2 separate regions of the Homo sapiens genome follow, and region 1 is linked to region 2. Evidence: fine-mapped expression QTL. A gene starts in region 2. The other region holds a variant in brackets. All regions are shown on one strand. Distances are from middle to middle. Region 1 overlaps DBNL (drebrin like). Region 2 holds the start of POLM (DNA polymerase mu).

The links.
Region 1: its variant is fine-mapped to the expression of POLM in whole blood (TOPMed, PIP 0.94).

Annotation. Positions count from the first base shown.
Region 1 is chr7:44,052,707-44,055,729 of GRCh38, forward strand. DBNL (drebrin like) reads left to right here. Exons shown (of 13, transcript NM_001014436.3): 4 at 161-235. Among named protein-coding and RNA genes, the nearest start is that of MIR6837, 2.5 kb to the left of the region's middle. The variant G/A (reference allele first, on the strand shown) is at 1,767.
Region 2 is chr7:44,081,584-44,084,302 of GRCh38, forward strand. POLM (DNA polymerase mu) reads right to left here and starts at 947. Exons shown (of 11, transcript NM_013284.4): 1 at 668-947. The coding sequence starts at 855. RefSeq lists an enhancer at 721-1,221 and a silencer at 933-1,512.

The sequences.
Region 1 (3,023 bases), 29 kb before region 2:
GGGAACTTACCTCACCCATGTGATGCAGTCAGAAGAATAGGTTCTGCTTTGGGGGTTGCAGTTTTCTCTTTTCTGGGACACAGGGTAGATGTTGGGTCCCCAGGGAAGGGAAGTGGCTTTGGGGGAGGCCTGGGTCAACCTGGGCATCCTTGTGTTGCAGACAGGCGAGGGCGTGAACGATGTGCGGAAGGGAGCCTGTGCCAGCCACGTCAGCACCATGGCCAGCTTCCTGAAGGTAAGGCCAGGTGAGGCCCGCTTCACTGGGAACAGGCCTCACAGGCTTGAGGTCTCGCAGGTTCCTGGGTGCGAGCAAGTGGGAATCAGAACTGGAGTTGGGAGTGTGCTCATAGCTAATGCTCTCTGCCTGCCTTTGAGGGCATGACCAGAGGCTGCTTCACTCTCGGTCAGTGAGTGCATGGGAGGTCAGGATGTTGCCAGGGCCACCTACAGGCCTGCCTCAGTGGGGCAGGATAAAGGACTATGCTGGAGCTGGTGCCGTGAGAAGGGTGGGCCCTGGTTCTGTTTTGTTTTATGATCCCTCTAAACAGTTTAGTAATACCGTCAGGATTTGGAGGAAGGGGAGAGTGCCCACCATCTTAGCACGCATGTGCCCTTTTGATGCATTCCTTTCCAGCCCCCTCTACATGGAGTTATGTCAGTCCTATAATAGAACCTTTTTAAATTTTAAAAACTATTTGTAACAAAAGCATTTGTTGGTCACTTGTCAGGTAACTTTTTGCATTTCTCTGGCAAAGGAGACTCAGAATTTTGATTTCTCGTTCTGCCAACATTTCTTCAGCTATACCTCAGTTTCCATCTAGGAGCTGATAAGAGAATTCCCAGCTTATCGATATACAGGTTTGAGTATCCTTTATCTGAAATGCTTAGGACCAGAAATGTTTTGGATTTTTTCAGATTTGGGAATGTTTTCAGTTCAGCATCCAAAATCCGAAATTCTCCAGAATCTGAATTTTTTTTTTTTTTTTTTGAGACTGAGTCTCGCTCCGTTGCCCAGGCTGGAGTGCAGTGGCGTGATCTTGGCTCACTGCAAGCTCCGCCTCCCGGGTTCACACCATTCTTCTGCCTCAGCCTCCCGATTAGCTGGGACTGCAGGCACCCGCCACCACGCCCAGCTAATTTTTTGTATTTTTAGTAGAGACGGGGTTTCACTGTGTTAGCCAGGATGGTCTCGATCTCCTGACCTCGTGATTTGCCCGCCTTGGCCTCCCAAAGTGCTAGGATTACAGGCGTGAACCACCACGCCCAGCCCAGAATCTGAGATTTTTTGAGTGCTGACATAATGCTTAAAGGAAATGTTCATTGGAGCAGTTCAGATTTTGGAATTTTAGGTAAGGGATGCTCAACCTGTATAGCAACAGTGAATGACGTCATGGGTCTGGCTTCTTATGAAGAAATCATTGGCTTACTTTTTGTAGAAAACATGCATGGCATTCTTTTATCAGAGTTTTTTTTAATTGTTTTGTTTTTTGTTTGTTTGTTTGTTTTGAGACAGTCTCACTCTGTCACCCAGGCTGGAACGCAGTGGCACGATCTCGGCTCACTGCAACCTCTGCCTCCCAGGTTCAAGTGATTTTCCTGCCTCAGCCTCCTGAGTAGTTGGGATTACAGGTGCCTGCCACCATGCCCGGCTAAGTTTTCTATTTTTAGTAGAGATGGTGTTTCCCTGTGTTGGCCAGGCTGGTCTGGAATCCCTGAGCTCAAGTGATCTGCCCTCTTCAGCTTCCCAAAGTGCTGGGATTACAGGC[G/A]AGAGCCACCGCACCTGGCCCAGAGTTTTTATAAATTGATATATAATAGTTGTACATATTTTTTGCATACATGTCATATTTTGATACCTGTATACAATGTATACGATGAATCAGGGTAATTAGCATGTTCATCACCTCAAACATTTATCTTTTCTTTGTGTTGGGAACATTACAATTTTTCTCTTCTAGCTAATTTGAAATACACAAAATTATTGTTAACTATAATTTCCCTTCTGTACTATTGAATACTAGAATTTATTCCTTCTATTTAACTGTACTTTTGTACCTGTTAAGCAACTTCTCTTCATTTTCTCTCCCCCATGCCCTTCCCAACCCCTGGTAACCAGCATTCTACTCTCTCCCTCCATGATACCCACTTTTTTAGCTCCCACATGAGTGAGAACATGCAATACTTGTCTTCTGTGCCTGGCTTATTTCCCTTAACATCATGACCTCCAGTTCCATCCATGTTGCTGCAAATGACAGGATGCCATTCTGTTTTATGGCTGAATAATATTCCCTCATGTTTATATACTAAATTTTCTTTACCCTTTCATCCATTGATGGACGTTTTGGTTGATTCCGTATCTTGGCTATTGTTAATAGCGCTGAACTTCAGAGTTGGATATATCCCCAGCAGCTGGATTGCTAGATCATATGGTAGTTCTGCTTTTAGTAGGACTAAAATACTGTTTTAAAAACCATACTGTTGTCTAGGCGCGATGGCTCACGCCTGTAATCCCAGCAGTTTGGGAGGCCAAGGTGAACAGATTACCTGAGGTCAGGAGTTCAAGACCAGCCTGGCCAACATGGTGAAACCCCGTCTCTACTAAAAAAATACAACAATTAGCCAGGTGTGGTGGCGGGCACCTGTAATCCCAGCTACTCAGGAAGCTGAGGCAGAGAATCTCTTGAACCTGGGAGGTGGAGGTTGCAGTGAGCCGAGATTGTCCACTGCACTCCAGCCTGGGCAACAGAGTAAGACTCTGTCTCAGAAAAAAACCCAAAAAACCATACTGTTTTTATAATGGCTGTACTACTTTACATTCCTACCAACAGTGTATAAGAATTTCCCTTTCTCCACATCCTTGCTAGCATTTATTTTTTATGTTTTTTATAATAGCCATTCTAACTGTGGTGAGATGATAGCCCGTTATGGTTTTGGTTTGCATTTCCCTGATGATGGTTAGTGATGTTGAGCATTTTTTTGTATGTAGTTAGCCATGCGTATATCATCTTTCGAGAAATATCTGTTAA
Region 2 (2,719 bases):
ATTTTTTCTTCTCTTGGTTCCCTTCCTACAAGAGCTTCTCAGTCGTGTTATTTACTCAGGCCTGAGGACAGAGGAGCCTGCGGGCTCCGGGCCTCTTGAGAAGTCAGTCTCGCTCACAGGTGGGACATAGCCCAGGCAGAAGGGCTGTTAGCAAATACGACTTTTTTTTTTTTTTTTTTTGAGACAGAGTCTCACTCTGTCGCCCAGGCTGGAGTGCAGTGGCGCGATCTCGGCTCACTGCAAGCTCCGCCTCCCAGGTTCATGCCATTCTCCTGCCTCAGCCTCCCGAGTAGCTGGGACTACAGGTGCCCGCCACCACCTCCGGTTAATTTTTTGTATTTTTAGTAGAGACGGGGTTTCACCGTGTTAGCCAGGATGGTCTCGATCTCCTGACCTCGTGATCTGCCCGCCTCGGCCTCCCAAAGTGCTGGGATTACAGGCGTGAGCCACCGCGCCCGGCCTACTGCTTATTAATTACCCCTGACCTCTGGTTTTGATTCTCGCAGTGATCCTTTAAAACACGCCTCGCCCTAATTAATAGCACCCTTTACAGAAGAGGAGATGGAGGCTCAGGGAAAGGTCACAAGACCACGAAGTGCCACTGCAAACTTAGAATCCAAAACCAGAAGTGCCATGGAAGCCCTCGCCGCGCCGCGCCGCCCCGCACCTGCAGGCGTCAAGGACGCGGAAGCCTTTGGAGCGCGCCAGGCCTGTGAGGAAGGCCCGGCGGCTGCGACCCATGCGAGGCTCGACCAGGTAGATGGCGACTCCCGGGAAGCGCGTCGAGGGCGGCGTGGAGGAAGCGGCATCGCCGCTAGGGGACCCGACCCGCGCTCGCCGCCGTTTGGGGAGCATTGGGACGACAGCCTCCAGCAGCGCGGAGCGAACGCAGAGGGAAACTCCGAGCGAGACGGAAGGAAGCCCCAGTGAGGCTGACGGAAGCGGGTGGGCGGGCGGGCGGCCGCCGGCTGGAAGAGGACGTGGCCCCGCCCTATGCAAATGAGGCCTCTCCGTGGGGCTCGCTACTTGGGCCAGTCGGAGCGCTGGGGAGGGTCCGGGCTCCTACAGGATTGGGTGTCCCGGCCGCTCCGGAAGACCCGCCTCCATGCAAATAACGGCAGAGGACCCGCCTTTTATTTAAATTAATGTCTCGGAAAGCGCTGTTCGGCCCCATTGGCCTCCGGGAGGAGAGGCTGGGCTGGAGCGGGGCGGGGAGGGTGTTGGAGGGGGTGGAGGAGGCGGGGTCAAGGGGGCGTCCCCGGCTAGGGAGGGTGAACTGGGACCTAGGCCCGGGCGGAGCGGGGTGGGCTGTGTCCTTGGCGCCGGGGCTGGGTCTAGGGTTGAGCCGGCGGCTCGGGGCGGACGCGTGCGGGCTGTGCCCGATCCCTCTGCGCTCGGGACTGTCACACGGAAGCCGGCGGGCGCAGGACCGACACGCGGGTTTCCAATGCGCTGGTGGGGCGGTCGCTTCAAACACGCGGGAAGATTTTTCAGTCGAATGGCATTAGGACAACTGGCAGGCCATTTGGAAAAATAGAAGTTGGTGCCCTTCCTCATTCCTTAACACCAAAATAAATTCCAGATGGGTCAAACATTTCCATCTAAAAAGGAAACCAACAACGTACTGGAAAAAAGTCGGTGAATGTTTTTATGATCTAAATATCACAATAAACTTGGAAACACTAAAGGAAAAGAATGATAAACTGGACTACAGACAAATTTTAAATCTGATTAAAAATTAGAGTCAGAAGATAAACTGGGATAAAGTGTGAGATATTTTGGAATTAAGATTATCTCATGATAATCTTATCAAATTGTCCATAGATAAAAAGACAATAATTTAATAGAAAAATTAGCAAAAAAACTCACGTAGATGATTCTTAGAAGAAATCCTGGTCAATAAATTTATGACCAGAGTGCCCAACCTGTCCAGTCGTTACAGAATACCTAAATGAGAATATCTTCAGTTGTGGGTTTATCAAACATTCAAAAAAATTGACCACACATGTTGAAGGTGCGAGGTAATTGGCAATCCATAGGAAGGACTGTGGAAGCCAATGTGGCAACCACATCCAACAAAATGAAAACAAAATAATACACATTGATCCAGCAATTCCTTTCCCAAGATTGGGATTGCATTGAATCTATAGATCAAGCTGGGGAAATCTGATGTCTTGATAATATCAAGTCTTCTGTCTATCTTATTTAGATATACTCCATTTGTAACCTCTGTTACGGTAGTGTGGCACTGCTCAGCCTAACTGATGGGACACCAGATCAGATGCAACCCCCTTCCACATGCCTCTCCTCATCACTGCCCCATCGTCCTCAGTCTTGAGCCCCAGACTCCTTGAGCACCTATCCTTTTTCTTTGGCTCCTCTCTGACATCTTTAGTGGGCTGGCTCTTCCCCATCTCTGCACTCAGAGCACAGGGCTGAGGGGAGTGGGGGAGATGGCTCAGCCCAGGCATCCTCTTGACCTCCTACACCATCTCCCAGCCTCCTAATTCATCTACCTCTTCAGGGCTGTAGAGCTTCCTGGGCCTCAGGACCCACATACAGAAGCCAGGAGGCCTGCGTATGGTCCCTCTCTCCCCATCCTCCCCTTGTGCCAGCAGGGATGGGCAGGCTCTAAGGGTCTTCGTCTGTGGATCTGGCTCCTACCCTTCTCAAGGAGGAGGCTCTGCCCAAATATCCCCTGAGCAGATCCCTCTAGCTG